Linked DNA regions of Homo sapiens: region 2 is linked to region 1. Evidence: fine-mapped expression QTL. A gene starts in region 1. The other region holds a variant in brackets. All regions are shown on one strand. Distances are between the middles of the regions.

The links. PIP is the estimated chance that this variant, and not a neighbour inherited with it, causes the effect.
Region 2: its variant is fine-mapped to the expression of CCDC71 in whole blood (TOPMed, PIP above 0.99).

Annotation. Positions count from the first base shown.
Region 1 is chr3:49,161,337-49,170,874 of GRCh38, reverse strand. CCDC71 (coiled-coil domain containing 71) reads left to right here and starts at 4,544. Exons shown (of 2, transcript NM_022903.4): 1 at 4,544-4,608; 2 at 6,615-8,340. The coding sequence starts at 6,667. The coding sequence ends at 8,070. RefSeq lists enhancers at 4,263-4,382, 4,403-4,472, 7,018-7,518 and silencers at 4,623-4,702, 4,723-4,782.
Region 2 is chr3:48,611,834-48,621,371 of GRCh38, reverse strand. TMEM89 (transmembrane protein 89) reads left to right here. Exons shown (of 2, transcript NM_001008269.3): 2 at 345-613. The coding sequence ends at 530. Among named protein-coding and RNA genes, the nearest start is that of TMEM89, 5.2 kb to the left of the region's middle. RefSeq lists an enhancer at 7,127-7,626. The variant A/G (reference allele first, on the strand shown) is at 3,867.

The DNA.
Region 1 (9,538 bases):
CCTGAGCTTGCCTCTAACCAATTCTGGGGTCAAGCAAGAGCAAACTAGTGTGACAGGGGCCCACCTACCTCAGGCCCAGACCTTGGCCCTGCCTATCTTCTGAGCATTCAGAGTATTAGCTAAGTCTTCAAGCTGAGGGCCCATTTGTACAGGTCAGTGGTACCTGTGGGAAGAGGTCCTTGCAGTTGTCTGTGTCTGCTCACTGCCTTGTCCCCCTTTCATGGACAGTGCTTATCTTAGTTTCCCCCAAAGCAGACCTGGACAAAGATATACATGCATATAGTTAGTATGGGAGGTGAGGCCAAGAAACACCAGCAGTGGCAAGGAGACAAGGAAAGCAGCCAATAAAGGAAGTGTCATCAAGCAAGCTACCACTGTGGGCCATTGGGACCAAATCCTGCTGGGGATTCTGGGAGCCAGCGTAGAACATAGGCCTTACATCATTGCTGCCCCCAAGAACAAGGGGAGCTGAGATACTCATTCTCAAATCTCCATTAGTCATGGGTTGAGAGCTGTTTGGGGGCATTACCTATTAACTCCCTGGCCTCCCTCACATCTGGCCTTCCCAGAAGTCTATGGGTAGACCCTCCCGCATGACCGGAGAAGAGAGCCTTTGCTCTTTTCAGGGACTGTCAGTTGGATTCAGTCGGCCTGCACAGAAATGGTGGTGCCAAGGCTGGTTACAGACTGCACAGACCCTGACTTGAAGGCCTCAATCCTCCTTGTCCCACTTCACCTTGGACTTGCTCCTCAGTGCCCTCACTTGGGGCACTGTTTCCACCCTCTTGTGATTGCCAATAGGCTTCCAAGAGGCTCACACTGCTCTGCAGCCCCCTTCACATTTGCTACTGTTCCCTTTCCAAGCTCCCTCCTCCTCCTTTCCAGCAATTAAACACTTACAAGCCACTTGCCTTTAGATACCTCCCAACACCCCAAGTCTCTCTAGTCTCCCCTTCCTCCACTCCAGTCAAACTCTTGAAGCCATCTGTCCTCACAGGCTCCACCTCCTTGTTACTTGTCACCTCAATGTGCTGCCACTCCTCCCCAAAAATTGTTCTTGGAAAAGTCATCATGAAATACCATATAGCTAAAACTATATGTGCCTGTGGTCCTTAACTAAATCTTGCTAGCATCTTCAAAGTTTTGCCCCTTGTGACCTCAACTCCCTCCTGCTGTTTGTCCTGCCTCTGAGAATCTTTATTTTTTATCTATTTATTTTTTTTTTGAGACGGAGTCTTGCTCTGTCACTCAGGCTGGAGTGCAGTGGTGCCATCTCCACTCACTGCAAGCTCCGCCTCCCAGGTTCATGCCATTCTCCTGTCTAAGCCTCCCGAGTAGCTGGGACTACAGGGGCCCGCCACCATGCCCGGCTAATTTTTTTTTTTTTGTATTTCTAGTAGAGATGGAGTTTCACCGTGTTAGCCAGGATGGTCTCGATCTCCTGACCTCGTGATCCGCCCACCTCAGCCTCCCAAAGTGCTGGGATTACAGGCATGAGCCACCGCGCCCAGCCCACCTCTCAAAATCTTTTTTTTGAAACGGAGTTTCACTCTTGTTGCCCAGGCTAGGGTGCAGTGGCGTGATCTCAGCTTACTGCCACCTCCGCCTTCCGGTGGTTTCAAATGATTCTCCTGCCTCAGCCTCCCGAGTAGCTGGGACTACAGGCACGTGCCACCATGCCCAGCTAATTTTTTGTATTTTTAGTAGACATGGGGTTTCACCATGTTGGCCAGGATGGTCTCCATCTCTTGACTGCGGGATCCGTCCGCCTTGGCCTCCCAAAGTGCTGGAATTACAGGCATGAGTCACCGCGCCTGGCCTAGAATCTTTTGCAGGCTCTGCTTCTTCTCCATCACCAGGAATTGGCTCCTCAAGATTCAACCCTGGCTTTTCTCCCTGGCACACATATTTCCTCTTGGGGCAGTCCCTCCCAGGCCACTGCCTTCATTCACATCTAAAGCTCCATCACATCTCTCTGCTCAGATAGAGCTGGGTCCAGGATCCACTGAGAACCATATAAGGCTGGAGGGGCAGGTGGCTCACACGTGTAATACTAGCACTTTGGGAGGCTGAGGTGGGCAGATCACCTGAGGTCAGGAGTTCAAGACCAGCCTGGCCAACATGGTGAAACCCCAGCTTGACTAAAAATACAAAAAATTGGCCAGGCACAGTGGCTCACGCCTGTAATCCCAGCACTTTGGGAGGCCAAGGTGGGTGGATCATTTGAGGTCAGGAGCTTGAGACCAGCCTGGCCAACATGGTGAAACCCCACCTCTACTAAAAATACAAAAATTAGCCAGGTGTGATGGCAGGCGCCTGTAGTCCCAGCTACTCTGGAGGCTGAGGTAGGAGAATTGCTTGAACCTGGGAGGCAGAGGTTGCAGTGAGCTGAGATCACGCCACTGCACTCCAGCCTGGGCAACAAAGGAGACTGTCTCAAAAAAAAAAAAAAAAAAAAAAAAAAGGAAGAAGAAGGAAAAAAAGAACCATATAAGATGCCAAATGGAAAGCAAAGATTGGGTCCTGGGATCACCCTGTGTTCTCTCCCATCTCATCCTGTCTGGTCCCAGTTGTGCCTGTAGGCTCAGCAGCCACTAGAGTCCAGGTCAAGTCAGACTGCACTCTGATGAGCGCTCCCAAAGAGTTCCATCTAGGGCATACTGGGCACCAGGAGGCAAAAAGTTCGGCCCTACCACCCCCAAAGGGAGCTAGGTACCCCCATGATCCTTATCCCTAATCTCTATCATTTCCCCAGTTCTCATGTCTGGAAGGGACACAGCACAGCCGGAGGATGGACCTACCCTTCCTGGTTTTCCATTTGCCCTAACTTCTGAGCTGAACATCACCAGAGAGGGGTCTGGATATAACTGTACTGTTGCTATCCCTGGAGGATGGGCTCTGGCTCTCCATGGAAGGGGTTTCTGTTTGCACAGCCATGGCCCACCTGCACACAGGAGGCCAACACTGCCGGCTTTGGAGAAGCTGCAGAAGGTAACTGGTTGAATCGGTCCTGAATAAGTGAACAGTCAATCTTCAACCATGGACGGCCAGAGACTGGACTCACCCACAGCTGGGGACTGGGGGCACCAAGGTGGGGCTTCCTGACTGCACCCCATGAGATCCTGGCCCCTGGGACCCTACTCTTGCTTTCTCTCCACCAGGAAAAAAAGGCTAGAAGCACTGACCCCAGAGGAACAGGAGATTTTGCAGTTCCTGCTAGATACCTTGGCTATACTTAAAAGCAGCGAGGACCTCACCATTAGTGCTGAGGCCCTGGGAAGCTAAGAGGCACCAGATGAGGCCTATGGCACTGCTGGGTGGACTAGGCACTTGTCTTTAGGAGTGCCTGGACCCCTCTGTATAAGCAGGGAAAATACAGAGCAACCAGAGGATCCTGGTTGGAAAAAGGGCAGGAAAAAGGGCTAGTACCCAGTCCCTAAATGAAGCATCCCGCCACCCTCCTGTGATTGCCAATAGGCTTCCACCTGACCCCAACTACCAAATAAGGCACCACTGCAAGGGTCAGAGTCCAAGAGTTGTGGCAATATTTCTGCCTCCTGGCTCAGGCTCTGACCCTAGTGCAAATGCCCCCACTACCTCATCCATGAAACCAGGGCTCCCAGGATGGTTCCCAACCTGGACTTGCAAACCTCTGACTAATGGGACCTTTGGTCAGAGCTGTGGAGACCACTCTGACCTCTCACTGAAGTCACAGACCCCTAGGGTTGATTTTGACCTGTGTCCTATAACCACCACCCCGTACTAGCCCAAGAGCATGGATAAAAAGACTGAGGTCCCAGACTCCTAGGCAAAAGGAAAGGGGTTCTGGGCAGTGTTAAGACTGGAAGCAGGACTTCCTTCCATTGAGGGGCTGAGGCTGGGCCAGTGACTATACCTGCCCCCACCTGCCTGAGCAAGTATACTCAGGCCCACAGTGGTATACTGGAGCCCCCAGACTCCATGTGCGCTTGGGCTTGCGTGCACCACTTGTGATCACGTGCACACCAGCCTTTCATGCCATGTGCCACAGGCCCTATTCTCAGGAAGAGAGGAAGGCCTGCTGTCCTCGGAGAAGATACCCTTACTGCAAAACAAAGGAGATCACCTGAGACTCCCTGTCAGGAGGCACTCCTCTTTCACCCTCTGGTCAGGTGTCTGGGACTGAAGTGGGCATTGTCAGTGGCTAAAGATAGATCAGAGGGTGGAAGATGGCCTGAACCTTGTCAGGAGCCCCTCCCAGATGTCAATGCACCACTAGCTCCCCTCAGAAAAGGTGTCAGATGACCCCTAATCCAGTCTTGGCCGGGCTCTAGTGAGTCCTTGCCTGGGGCCGCGTCAGAGGGCACCTCTGTTCTTCAGACTTCTGCACAGGGCCGAACGGGTTTGGAGCAGTCACCGCGGCCACCACCTCCAGGCAGTCCTCCTTGGTACCCAATCTGCTCCGCCCCCAGACTTTGTGGGGAAATGGGGTCTCAGGGGTCAAGGGTCGGTAGGGCGGGCTGGGTCCCGGAAGCGGAAGCGCAGTGCACTTCCGGCGCGCAGCGGGCGGCCATGTTGGAGCAGCGGAGGCGGCGCAGAGGCGCGTCTTGGGTCCCCGCGGCGGCGCCGGTAGGTTGGAGCCGCGGGCCTAGCCGCGCCGCGGAGGGGCGGCCCGCGAGGCGGCAGGGCGGACGGGCAAGCGGCCAACTCTTCCCGGACCCGCGTCCTCCGCCGGCCTGGCCGAGACCCCCCACCCCACCCCCACCCCGCGCCCAGCGACCCCACCCTGGGGCTGTGCGGTCCCGGTAGGGCTAGCACCGTTCACCCTGTACATTTCGCTGCCTCAGTGACCCCCGCCTCACGGCTTGGGCCCTAAGGACGTGCATTCCCAGCCTGAGGGCCCCGATCTGCCCCCTCCCCCGGTCTGCCTGTGTGGCGCCTCTCTCACGCCCTATCTTCCGTCAACTTCTCCTGCCTTCCCCGGGGGCACGTGTGAAGGGAAGTCGGAGGCCGGGCAGGAGCCTCTGTTTCCGAAGCTTCTCGAAAGCCCAGAAAACCCCTCCCAAGAGCCCAGCCTAACCTGGGTGGAAGAGCCCCCAGGTCACCCCAAATATTTGCGCTGGGGCGCGTGTGAGGGTGGGAAATAGGTCCCTCTCTCTTCTACAGTTCACAGCTCTGGGAACTACATCCCTTCAAAAAACATTAATAAAGAACTAAAGTCATGTGCAAGGATTGTGCTTGGAGAACGGTCTCTGGGGAGGGGAAGTGCCCAAGACACCTGAGGATCCAAGAATGTTTCCAAACAAAGAGCCCTAGGGCATTTCCTCCAGGGTATTCTGAAGACTTCATCTGCTGCATTAGAGCGGTGGGAAGAAACTACACAGACGGGCCTCATGGCCCGAGGGACCTGCCTGATCCTGGCTGATCTTTTAATGCTCTGGTGCAGCTGGGGAGCTGCCTCTTGCTTCTGGGAACCCTCAGTGTTGGGTTGGGTATTAGATGTTAGTTATGATTGATGTCCACAGCTTCTTTAAAGAAGTCTGGGAGTAGTTAGGTGTTCTCAGTCACCTCCATCTGGGCTGTACTGAGGTCTGTGGCCCTCCAAGTCTTAGGTAGGACAGTGCATACCGCTAATGTCCCCTTGACTCACCATCCTACTTGCAGCCTTTGGCTCCCATTGTCCTTAAACTTTGGGATCTTGGTCTGGCTTCCTGGTCCCTGGTCTGCCTGGTTGCCTAGAGAGATGTCATTGGCACCTGCTACTCATCAGCTTTTTAGTTTCTGTTGAAGAAAAGTCCGACTCTTGATTAGGTCTCCATGCCTCTGGAGCTAGAAAATGGGTTGCTGAGTACCCTGTCTAGAGACTGAAAACAGAACTTCTGGTGGGCAGGGAGATTCCCCCACCCCACTCCAGCTCCACACATGAACAGCAGCAGCTGGAGAAACAGATGGGCATGGACAGTGGGTGTAAGTCTGGGCCCTTTGGCTAACATTCAGGGTTCTTTGTTGCTCTATCCTCGCCTGTTTTTTCACCTAGATCCCAGATCCCACACCAAGTATGCCTTAACCCTTTCTCACTTTGGAGCCATTGCATTAGCTATTCCCCTTTTTGTTCCATTTCCATCTAATCATTTTTCATTCATCACTCATATCCTAGCTAGGTGTTGTCTCTCCCAGGAATCCTTTCCTGACCCATTGGCAAACTGAGCTGAATGCCAGCATTCACTCCCAAGAATCTTAACAGTGTCTTTTTCTGGCCTTCTAACCTAGGTTCCTTGAGGACAGGGATATTGCCTGTATTCCCAGAGCTGAGTAATTCTAGGTTTCTGGCTTCAGAAAATACAGAGTTGAATTAAAATGTACCAGGCTCAAATCTTTTCAGGGACCCGGCAGCAGGTTGGATGGCTCTGAGGTATTTCTGAGCATGTATCTTGAAGAAACTCCCTGATCCTTAGCCTCTCCTCCCACCCCAGCATGGTAGAGGGTCAGGAGACCAGGGTTTTACACCAGGAAGTGTCTCACTCTGGCCAGATTCCTCAGTGTCATGGAGATTGGGGCACTGATTGACTTGTCTATGTGTTCTGGCCCCTTGTCTTAGTGCCATTCTTATTGACTCTTTTCCTCTTGTCTTGGAGGTGCCAAGCGCTGGTTTGCGGATACCCAGGCAGATCTGCAGTGCCTAATGCCATGAGTGTGGTGGTTCAGCATGTGGAGGAAAAAGCTGTGCACTCCTGGTCGCGCATCTCCACGGCAGGGAAGAAGGCCCTGGAAGAGGCACTGCTTGTCTTTAACCCAATGAGCCAGGATCTCAGTGCCACAGAGGCCCAGCTTGTGGCCTTCCTGCAGGGCCTGCGAGATGATGGCTTCCAACCTACCATCCTGCGCAGTGGTGATGTCTATGGCTATAGTTCATGCACAGCTAATCCCCCAAGCCAGACGAAACTGCAAGCTCGTGCCCCTAACCCAACTGCCACATCACCTCCAGCCAGTGCTCCCCGAACTGCCATGCGGTTGCCTGCAGGTCGGGCCACACTGCTTCCCATGCCGCTATCTGGCAGACTGGCCAAAGCATCCACACCAGCCCTTGCCAAGCATGCTACCACCAACCTGCTGCTGAGCTCTCTGAAGCAATCAAGTGCCAGCCATGCCCGGGGTGCAGCAGTGGGCTTCCCCACCCACCTTTATCCAGGTGTCTACCCTGCCATGCGGCTCTCTGTTGTCCTTGAGGCCCTGGTTCCACTTAAGACTCCCATGCCCTGCTTGGGTGCCAAGCACAAGGCACAGTCACTGCAGCTCTCACTTGCAGACTCTCCTCTGAAACTGCGGAAAAGTTCAGGGAAGGGTCCGGGGAACCCTCGGCCCAAAGCTCCCAGAAAAACCACAAGCAAGGGCCCCAAGTGTCTGACTCGCAAAGGCCCTGGGGCTGGACCCCGACGAGGCTCTGGGCACCAGAGCAAAACCAACAGAGCCACTGGGTCCCCCAGTGTCCGGCGAATGAAAGGGGGCTCTGCCCTGGGCACCAAAACAGCCCAGGCCAAGGTAGCTCGAACACTGGCCAAAGCTGCTCGTGCCCAAGCCAAGGTGGCTCGAACACAGGCCAAGGCTGCTAAGGCCCGGGCCAAGGCCAAGGCAGCACAGGTCAAGGCTAAGGCCAAAGCTAAGGCAGCACAGGTCAAGGCCAAGGCCAAAGTCATGGCAGCATGGGCCAAGGCCAAGGCTAAAGCCAAGGCAGTACGGGCCAAGGCCAAGGTGGCTCGGACCCAGCCCAGGGGCAGAGGCAGGCCAAAGGGATCTGCTAAGGCCAGAACTACAAGGAAGGGCCAGAAAAACCGCCCTGAGACTGTTGGGCAGAAGAGGAAAAGGGCTGAGGAGGCAAAAGATCTTCCTCCCAAGAAGAGAACACGGCTTGGGCCCCGATCTCCTAAGGCATGGCTAGGGCCTGGAACAGCAAAGCTGCTGAAGTTCCGTGCCATAAAGGTAGATAGGCGGTCCTCGGATGATGAGGTGCGGCAGCGGGCTCAGCGGATCCTCCGCGTGAACCTGTCACCTGTAATACGGCTCCAGCCATTGCTGCCATATTCAGCAGTCTGATTCCTTCACACGGCAATGTTTGGGGAAACTAAGCCCAGCTGTCTGTGTGGCTAGTGGCACAGTGTGCTATGTCCGTGGACTCCACAATCTTGAGGACTCCCGGTGCCTCTCTAGGGCCCTGGTGACCACCAGCCTCCTTTCAGAAACCAGAGTGGGTGGGGTACGGTGGGGTGGGTGGGCGGGAGGGGTGTTTTCATGGCGCGATGCACTGTGACTTGTTATTCAAGTTGTATGTCTACTGTTCCATCTATCACGTTTTATACCTTTCCACCTTCCAGTCTCCCTGCCCACCCTCCATGGTCTTCTGTGTGTGTGTGGCTGCTGGCAGGCCAGCTTGAAGATATAGGGAAAGTGGTCCCAGAAATAGGCCTGCCTATTTCCGGGGGTTGTGGGAGGAGGCAGCTCCTGGGCCCCTTTGGAGAGATGAGGGGAAATTGGCTTCTGTGGTTGTCTGAGAGGCATCCCCTGAATGCAGAAGCAGAGCCACTGTGAAGTAAGACACTTCCCTTTGAGGCTGCTCTGGTTTGTGATCCAGACAGGCCCCATTCAGGACAGTAGGCCCCATGCAGGACAGTAGGTTCCATGGGGAACCTTGCAGCTAGTGGGTTTTTAGGTCCTGGAATGGAGCCTTTGTGGTACTTCCCTAGGGACCAAACAGACAGCCTGGCTAAAATCTTGGGGCTTAGCCTGGGCTTTTCTGGTGTGGGTCCAGGCCCAAAGGGGTTGAGGTGCTTCTCCCCACTCTGCTCTCGTGGCAGAGAGTAACTATCCTCAACTTCGATTGGTGGCAAGGTACTGGTGGTTGAGTCAGGACCACAGAGCTTGCCCTCAGTGACCAAATAATTTTCTCCTTGGTTGGGTGAGGTTTTCCATGACTGCCTCATCAGCAGTGCTTTCTGTATGAATCTTAAGTGCTCTCTCTACTCCCAGGTCCAGCCTCATCATGCCCTCCAACATGGTCCATATGTTAAAATACATTGTCACCCTTCCTGCTTTAGAGAGGGGGCTGGGCCCTGGGACCTGAAGGAGGTAACTGTCCTGCCCATCTGTAGTCCATCACTGGCTGCCCAGGCTGAATGGCAGTGCCTGGGGTTGGCAGGGAGGGGCACACATTCCCCCTCCCTGGGGTAGGGGCATCATTTCAGTGAGAATCAGATGTTTTCTGTTTCTGGGTTTGGGCCCCACAAGCTGCCAGCTGCCCTGGGTGGTGGACCTGTGGAGAAGCTCTGTGCTTCTTGGTGCCCTCCTGCCCCTTCTGCATCTTGTGGCATGCTTCCCCTGGGTGTGTCCTCCCTTGGTTTCCCAAGCTCTGGGACCTTGCTCCCAGCTGTGCTGTCGCCCCACTACCTTACATGCTACTTGCCTCTGACAACTCTTTCATTCATGATGTGAATATGGGGAATGACCTGAGAGCCACACTCAGCTCCTCAAGGGCAGCCCAGCTTGGGGCTCACGCCTGTAATCCCAG
Region 2 (9,538 bases), 550 kb after region 1:
TCCACACTGGCCTGTGGACCTCCCACACCCCCACCCCCAGCTCACAGCCCATTGTCCCTGTGTCCACACACCTTCGTGGAACCCATGTCCACCACCCACAGCCAGCACCCTGCCCCCAACTCTCCCCTTTAGTACCCCTGCTCTCATCCAGCCCCTGTGGGCCCCATGACCACTGTAGCCCACAACAGACCCTCGGTGATCCTCTATCACCCTGAGTCTCCCTCCCATCCCATCTGGGCACTGCCCCACACCCTACTCCCTGCTCCCCAGCTCCATCACTGCCCCTTGTCACATCTCCCTCTCTGCCCACCATTCTCACTCCTGCCTCTTGGTCCTGGTCTCAGCATCCGCAGGTGACCACTGAGCCCTGCGGACCCTGGAAACGGCGGGCCCCAATCTCAGACCACACCCTGCTCCGTGGGGTCCTGCACATGCTGGATGCCCTCCTGGTCCACATCGAAGGCCACCTACGTCATCTAGCCACCCAGCGGCAAATCCAAATAAAGGGGACTTCCACCCAGAGTGGGTGACCGAACATGTGCCTCTCTTTGCCTGACAGCCTGAGGTCCTGGGCCAGGTCTGCTCTTTCCAGGCCTGTCTGGACCGTGTGTCCCTTTTCAGCTTTTAGAGTCAGCTGACTTGGTGTCCAGGACGGGCGGGCAGGTGGGGCATAGGCTGGCTCACACTGCTCCATTGCCCCCACCAACTGACCTTTCCTCCCTAAGGATCCCTCCTGGAGACACAACTGCTCCTCTGGGCTGGGCGTGGTGGCTCACACCCGTAATCCCAGCGCTTTGAGAGGCCGAGGTGGGAGGATCATTTGAGCTCAAGAGTTCGAGACCAGCCTGGGCAACATGGCAACCCCATCCCTACGAAAAATACAAACAAACAAACAAAAATTAGCTGAGCACACACATAGTGGTGTGTGCCTGTAGTACCAACTACTCAGGAAGCTGAGGTGGGAGGATGGCTTGAGCCTGGCAGGCAGTGGTTGCAGTGAGCCAAGATTGTGCCACTGTACTCCAGCCTGGGTGACAGAGCAAGAACTTGTCTCAAAACAAACAAAAACTGCTCCTCTGGCCTGACCAGTACCTGGGGACTCCCTGTGTGATGGGAGAGGACTTACCAACGGGACAGGCTTGGGTGGCTCAGGAAGGGTTGCCCAGAGGAGCCAACAACCTGGCTGAGCCCTGAGGGGAAATGGGTGTGAGGAAGGGAAATCCAGGTGGCGGTCTGGTTCTGAGCAAAAGCCACGTGCTGTGTTTGGTACTCTCTGCACATGGGCAAGGTGGGCAGTGCACATGATAAAGGGCCTCAAGTGCTGAGTGAGGGTACTGGGCCTCTCCAGTGCACAGGGTGAGCTGAGGAGGGACCTGGTCAGCTGAGAAGAGGGGTGGGGGCAGTGGTGAAGCTGGAACCAGATGCTGAGGATCTCTGATGGGGGACTGAGAGCCCCAAGCCCCCATCACTGTGGAGTCGCACACCCTTTGGCTTCACCCATCCTTGTCACCACCTCAGGGAGGTGACTTTAGTCCTGCCATCAAACAGCAGCTGGCTCTGGCTTCCTTCTTCCCAGGCCCTGCAAGGCCCTCCCTTGAGAGGCCACTGCTCTGTCTCCAATAACAGCCCCTCCCCAGATTCTTGGCTCCAGCAGCCCCAACCTGGGGTCAGGCAGGCCGCCCTAGCTGCCTTTGTTTCTATGGCAGTCTCAAACATGCTCTAGTGCCTCAGCCGCCCTTGCTCTAAGGACCCTGGAAAAGAAGGGACCCTCACTTTAATCCCTTTCTCTTTCTTTTTCCCCTTTTTAAAAATTGTTTCTTTTTGTTTTTTTGACGAACTCAAGCAATCCTCCTGCCTTGGCCTCCCAAGTAGCTGAGACTATAGGCATACATCACCATACCCAGCTAATTAAAAAATATATATATATTTGTAGAGATGGAGTCTATCTTGCCCAGGCTGGCTTCAACTGATCCTCTTGCCTCTGCCTCTCAAAGTGCTGGGATGACAGGTATGAGCCACAGTGCCTGTCCCAGGTTCCTGCTTTAGAAAAAGGCAACAACGTTATGAATTCAAAAATGGAAGTGAATTAAAATAATGAGAAAAGAAATGATGATACTTTTTTTTGAAAACTTTTTTTTTAAATTGACAAATACTACAATACTAAATCCAGAAAAATAACATAACTTGTGGCAACTTCCTGACATATTTCTAATACCTTGGTCCCCTACATGGTCTGGCTTCTTACTCTGAAGGCCTCTACAGAGGACAAGGATTTTGTGATTTTTGGGGGAGATATTTTCCATACAGAGAAAAGATACTTCAGTCTTCCTCCTAACATGGTTGAAATTTGTGTTTTAATTATTGGTAGTTTAGGAAAGTTAAACTTCCTAATCTGTTGTTGACGGTGCCATACAAATGTTCTGGATTGTTGTAAAATTTGAGAAACTGTCATCAGCCTTCTTTCATATAGGAACTATGAAATTTGGAAGAATTTTCCACAGACGAGGTTCTGGCTCCACGCATTTCAAACCTTGTTTTCCTTCCATGGCTCACAGTTTTCCCAGCACTGGGTGCCGTGGGGCATGTCCTTAAGGCAATAGGACTTTGCACTTCTGTCCTTACCCAGCAGGATTTTCCTACGAGCCACATTCCTAGTTTATTCTAGAACAAGACCAATAAACTAACTTTACACAAGGGTGGAGCAAACCACATAAATATGTCCCTCTTAACCTGGTGTAGAAAGTAAAAAAAAAAAAGTTCCTCTTCAAAGTTTCCCTTCTTGTTAAAGAATAAATTATAAGTGTTACAAATAATAGTTTCTTTTAAAGACTAACTTCCTTTAAGCCTCCTCACTTTGTGCTAATAACTCTTTGTTAAGCCCTATCTTATGTAGCTGTTAGATATAAAGAAATAAGTACATTCTGTGTCCTTGTACTTTAACCAAAATATTTGTGCTGGACATGCTCACAGGCACATTCCAGCTTGCAGCCTATGTGCCTTCCTTATTTCGAAATGTTATTACTTTTGGCTGGGTGCAGTGACTCACGCCTGTTATCCCAGCACTTTGGGAGGCTGAGGCGGGCAGATCATGAGGTCAGGAGATCAAGACCATCCTGGTTAACACAGTGAAACCCCGCCTCTACCAAAAATGCAAAAAAGATTAGCCAGGCATGGTGGTGGGTGCCTGTAGTCCCAGCTACTCCGGAAGCTGAGGCAGAAGAATGGCGTGAACCCATGGCAGAGCTTGCAGTGAGCCGAGATCATGCCATTGCACTCCAGCCTGGGCGACAGAGCAAGACTCCATCTCAAAAAAGAAAAAAAAGAAAAAAAGAAATGTTATTACTTTTCTAAGTCCTTCTAAGTCCTTTCGTAAGCAATTTCCTCTTTTCCTTTGTTCTCCCTTGCCTTTACCTATTTAAGAAAATTTTAAGTTATTAGCCGGTCAAGTTTAGCTTAGATTGTGCAGTCCGTCTCCAGCCAATGGAGGCAGGACACAGTAGCAAGGACAAGCTGCATAAAGAATAAAAATTGCTTCCCTCCTTTGTTCAAGTGTGCTCTCACCATTGTTTCATCTGCAAGGAGCACCCTTTCTGCAGAAAGTAAATTTGCCTTGCTGAGAAAACTTTTTGTCTCAATGCTAATTTTTCCTTGCGGTACTGAAGAACAGCATTCTGTTTCTGAATAAACATTTTACTTATAACACCCAGTGTGTCCCTGTGGTAGACTCAGAGATATGCCACACAAAGGCCAGCTGCTGCCAGCCACTCAGGGGACGGCCAGCAGACAGGTCCACTCTGGCTGTGGCAGAGCCCCTATAGCCAGACTTCTTCCTTGCCCAACCCTTTCCCTCCTTCCCTGAGGTGCTC[A/G]TCTCAAGGGACTCTTGTAAATATCTTGTGCTCTGATCTTCCTCTTGGAGTTGGATTCCTAGAGAACCCAACCTGGGACCATCTTCAACCCACCTTCCCTTTGGCTGGACCCCGAAAATGCCACAGCCTCTCTGATGTCCTCCAAGTGAGGGGAAGTGGGCTGGAGTCAAAAGAGAGACAGGGTCTCACTATGTTGCCCTGGTCTCAAACTCCTGAACTCAAATGACTCTCCCACCTCAGCCTCCCAAAGTTCTGAGATCATAGGCATGAGCCACTGCACCTGGCTGAAAAAGAGATTGTGATGGGAAGTATCCCTCAGGAAGCCCAGGCATTGGAATTATTAATCAAAAACAATAAATCAACTGTCTTAGTATGTTCAATGAACTAAGGGAAGCCATGGACAAAGAACTAAAGGAAATTAGGAAAATTATGTCTGAACATAAAGAATACTAATAAAGAGGGCCGGGCGCGGTGGCTCATGCCTGTAATCCCAGCACTTTGGGAGGCCTAGGTGGGTGGATCACGAGGTCAGGAGATCAAGACCATCCTGGCTAACACAGTGAAACCCCATCTCTACTAAAAATACAAAAAATTAGCCGGGCACAGTGGTGGGCACCTGTAGTCCCAGCTACTCGGGAGGCTGAGGCAGGAGAATGGCATGAACTGGGGAGGCAGAGCTTGCAGCGAGCCAAGAGTGCCACTGCACTGTGGCCTGGGTGAAAGAGCAAGACTCTGTCTCAAAAAAAAAAAAAAAAAAAAAATTAATACAGAGAAAAATTTTAAAGGGACCAAACAAATTCTGAACCTGAAAGCAAATCATTTGTCAGTAATCTCATTAAATATAAATAGATTAAACTCTCCTATTAATAAATGAATTTTCAGATTGGTTTTTTAAAAAAGGTTAATCTATATGTTGTCTATCAGAGACTCACTTCAGATATAAGAACATAAAAACACCAGAAGTAAAAGGATGGAAGAAATATTTTATGGCCTGGCATGGTGGCTTACACCTGTAATCCCAGCACTTTGGGAGGCTGAGGCAGGTGGATTGCTTAAAGAGTTTGAGACCAGCCTGGGCAACAAGGCAAAACCCCATTTCTACAAAAAACACAAAAAATTAGCTGGGCATGGTGGTGTGCACCTTTAGTCCCAGCTACCCCGGAGGCTGAGGTGGGAGGATCACCTGATCTCAGGAAGGTCAAAGCTGCAGTGAGTCATGATCACACCACTGCACTCTAGCCTGGGGCAACAGAGTGAGACTCTGTTTCAAGAAAGAAAAAAAGAAAAAGAAAAAGAAAAAAAAATACTTCATGCAAATAGCAACCAGAAGAGAGTCAAGGTGGCTTTATTATTGTCAGGTATAGTAGCCTCTAAATCAAAAAGATTACAAGAGACAAAGAAGGACGTTATCTATTGATAAAAATTGCTTTTTTTTTTTGAGACGGAGTCTCACTTTGTCGCCTAGGCAGGAGTGCAGTGGCGCAATCTCGGCTCACTGCAACCTCTGCCTCCTGGGTTCATGCCATTCTCCAGCCTCGGCTTCCTGAGTAGCCGGGACTACAGGTGTCTGCCACCATACCCAGCTAATTTTTTTTGTACTTTTTTTTTTTTTTTTTTTTTTTTGAGACGGAGTCTCGCTCTGTCGCCCAGGCTGGAGTGCAGTGGCGGGATCTCGGCTCACTGCAAGCTCTGCCTCCCGGGTTCACGCCATTCTCCTGCCTCAGCCTCCCAAGTAGCTGGGACTACAGGCGCCCGCCACTACGCCCGGCTAATTTTTTGTATTTTTAGTAGAGACGGGGTTTCACCGTTTTAGCCGGGATGGTCTCGATCTCCTGACCTCGTGATCCGCCCGCCTCGGCCTCCCAAAGTGCTGGGATTACAGGCGTGAGCCACCGCGCCCGGCATTTTTTTTGTATTTTTAGTAGAGACGGGGTTTCACTGTGTTAGCCAGGATGGTCTCTGTCTCCTGACCTCGTGATCTTCCTGCCTTGGCCTCCCAAAGTGCTGGGATTACAGGCGTAAGCCACTGCGCCCAGCCTTTTTTTTTTTTTGAGACAGAGTTTCGCTCTTGTTGCCCAGGCTGGAGTGCAATGGCATGATCTTGGCTCACCACAGCCTCTGCCTCCCGGGTTCAAGCAATTCTCCTGCCTCAGCCTCCTGAGTAGCTGGGATTACAGGCATGCGCCACCATGCCCTACTAATTTTGTATTTTTAGTAGAGACGGGGTTTATCCATGTTGGTCAGGCTGGTCTTGAACTCCTGACCTGAGGTGATCCACCCACCTAATAAAAGTTTCAAAACAAGGCAATATGACAATTAGAAACATTTATGTGCCTAACGGAGCCCCAAAAATAATGAAACAAAAATTATCAGAATTGAAAGTAGTCAGCTCTACAATTATAGTTCATATTTCAACCCCCCACTTTCAATAATGAATAGAACAGGCAGGCGTGGTGGCTCACGCCTGTAATCCCAGGACTTTGGGAGGCTGAGGTGGGCGGATCACCTGAGGTCAGGAGTTCGAGACCAGCCTGGTCAAGATGGTGAAACCTTGTCTCTACTAAAAATACAAAAACTATCTGTGCATGGAGACAGGCCCCTGTAATCCCAGCTACTTGGGAGGCTGAGGCATGAGACTTGCTTGAACCAGGAGGTGGAGGTTGCAGTGAGCCTAGATCACACCACTGCACTCCATCCAACCTGAGCAACAAGAGCAAACTCCGTCTCAAAAAAAAAAAAAAAAAAAAAGCTGCGTGCAGTGGCTCATGCCTGTAATCCCAGCACTTTGTGAGACCAAGGCAGGAGAATCACTTGAGCCCAGGAGTTCGAGACCAAGCTGGGTAATGTGGCAAAATCCCATCTCTATTTAAAAAAATTAAAAGTAAATTTAAAAAATAAAAAGAAACATCTAGAAGAATAAATAGGTGAATGTATCAAACAGAGTAAGAAGGGTAAGTTGAGTGCCAGAGCCCTCCCTACAGAACACAGCCTGCATGGACCTGGTACAAGTTTGAGAATCTATGGGATGATAGAGGGAACAACAGAGATGGGTAGGGAAACAGGGCCTCATCAAGAAACGGTGTTACAAAATTTAGTTTGCCTTTTAGGGGGAGAGAGGATATTTTGACCTTACCTCACTCTATATACCAAGTAAATTCCAGAGAATCAATGAGTCACCAAACACTGTTGCAAAATTATTGCAATGATCACTGCTTGCACTTAACCTTTTAGTAATATTTCCTGTTTTGACCAACCCCTTGAAACGCATCGTTCCCAACCAGCATCAGACTTCCTAGTTGTCTCCTACTTCAATGGCCTTCCCTTCTTAGCCCAGGGTAGCAGTGGGTATAGGTAGGGAGGCTAGGTGACTGGGTTTAGGAATATTTCATTTGGGAGGCTGAGGTGGGAGGATCACTTGAGCCTAGGAGTTCAAGACCAGACTGGGGAATATAGTGAGACCCCATCTCTAGAAAAATGTTTTTAAAAATTAGCTGGGTGTGATGGTGCATGCCTATATAGTTCCAGCTACTCAGGAGGCTGGAGTGGGAAGATGGCTTGAGCTGGAAGGTTGAGGCTGCAGTGAGCCATGATCACACCACTGCATTCCAGCCTGAGTGACAGAAAGCCAGACCCTCTCAAAAAAAAAAAAGAAAGAGAGAGAAAGGAAGGGAGGAAGGAAGGAAGGAAAGGAAGGAGGGAGGGAAGGAAGGAAGGAAGGAAAGGAAGCAGGCAGGCCGGGTGCGGTGGCTCACACCTGTAATCCCAGCACTTTGGGAGGCCAAGGTGGGTGGATCACCTGAGGTTGGGAGTTTGAGACCAGCCTGACTAACATGGAGAAACCCCATCTCTACTAAAAATACAAAATTAGCTAGGCGTGATGGCACATGCCTGTAGTCCCAGCTACTCGGGAGACTGAGGCATGAGCATCGCTTGAACCCGGGAGGCAGAGGTTGCTGATAAGATTGCGCCATTGCACTCCAACCTGGGCAACAAGAGCGAAACTCGGTCTCAAAAATAAAAAAGGTCGGGCGTGGTAGCTCATGCCTGTAATCCCAGCACTTTGGCAGATCACGAGGTCAAGAGATCGAGACCATCCTGGCCAACATGGTGAAATCCCATCTCTACTAAAACTACAAAAATTAGCTGGGTGTGGTGGCACATGCCTTAGTCCCAGCTACTTGGGAGCCTGAGGCAGGAGAATCGCTTGAACCCAGGAGGCGGATGTTGCAGTGAGCCAAGATCATGCCACTGCACTCCAGCCTGGCAACAGAGCGAGACTCCATCTCAAAAAAAAAAAAAAAAGAGATCACGTCCAGGGGCGGTGGCTCACATCTGTAGTCCCAGCACTTTGGGAGGCCAAGGCAGGAGGCTCACTTGAGCCTGGAGTTTGAGACCAGCCTGGGCCACATAGTGAAATCCTGTCTCTACAAAAAATATAAAAGTTAGCTGGGTATGATGGTGTGCACCTGTGTTCCCAGCTACTCAGGAGCCTGAGGTAGAAGGATCACTTGAGCCAGGGCATGGTGGCGTGTGGCGTCCCAGCTACTTGGAAGGCTGAGGCAGGAGAATTGCTTGAATCCAGGAGGCTGAGGTTGCAGTGAGCCAAGATCACGCCACTGCACTTCAGCCTGGGTGACAGAATGAGACTCTGTCAAAAATTAGCGATGTTGGCATGTGCCTGCAGTTCCAGCTACTCGGGAGGCCGAGGCAGGAGAATTGCTTGAACCTGGGAGATGGAGGTTGCAGTGAGCAGAGATCCTGCCACTGCACTCCAGCCTGGGTGACAGAATGAGACTCTGTCTCAAAAAAGAAAGAAAAAAATAGAGATCATAAGACTGAGAGAATGAACCCTTTGTAGCAATAAGATACCAAAGTATAAACAAGACATTAAGGCCATGCCAGGCAAGAGTTAAGCCGTTCACCAAAGAATAAACTATGTTCTAACTGCTGCAAGGTTTTTCTTTTTCTCCAGCAGCTAAACAAGCACTGGCCTTGAGATAAGCAATATAGAAACAATTGCAGTTCATCCATCACCAGACACTGACCCCACAAGCCATAACTATAGCTTTGATTGCACAAGAGATGGATTTTGGTGACTTTTTCCTAATAAGAGACCACTGACCAGGGACTGGCTTCAGTTGGTTTATGGAACCTGTGCACTGAGTGCTTTTGTATCCTTCATTTTGACATATGGTGCTAATTGTATTTCTTTTCTTTTTTTTTTTTTTTTTTGAGATGGAGTCTCCCTCTGTAGCCCAGGCTGGAGTGCAGTGGTGCGATCTTGGCTCACTGCAACCTCCGCTTCCCGGTTTCAAGTGATTCTCCTTCCTCACCCTCCTGAGTAGCTGGGACTACAGGCATACGCCACCACGCCCAGCTAATTTTTGTATTTTTAGTAGAGACGGGGTTTTACTGTGTTGGCCAGGATGGTCTTGATCTTCTGACCTCGTGAGCCACCCACCTCGGCTTCCCAAAGTGCTGAGATTATAGGCGTGAGCCACCGCACCCGGCCTGTAATGTATTTCAATGTTAAGTCTCCACCCCAAAGTGAACATGGGTCATATACAACACACATGTTTATTCAGTATACTTGCATTAGGACCCCCTTCATGAGTATCTATAGCTCTTCCTGTAACCTGTTGAATATGGTATTTTTTGTTTTTGTTTTTTCT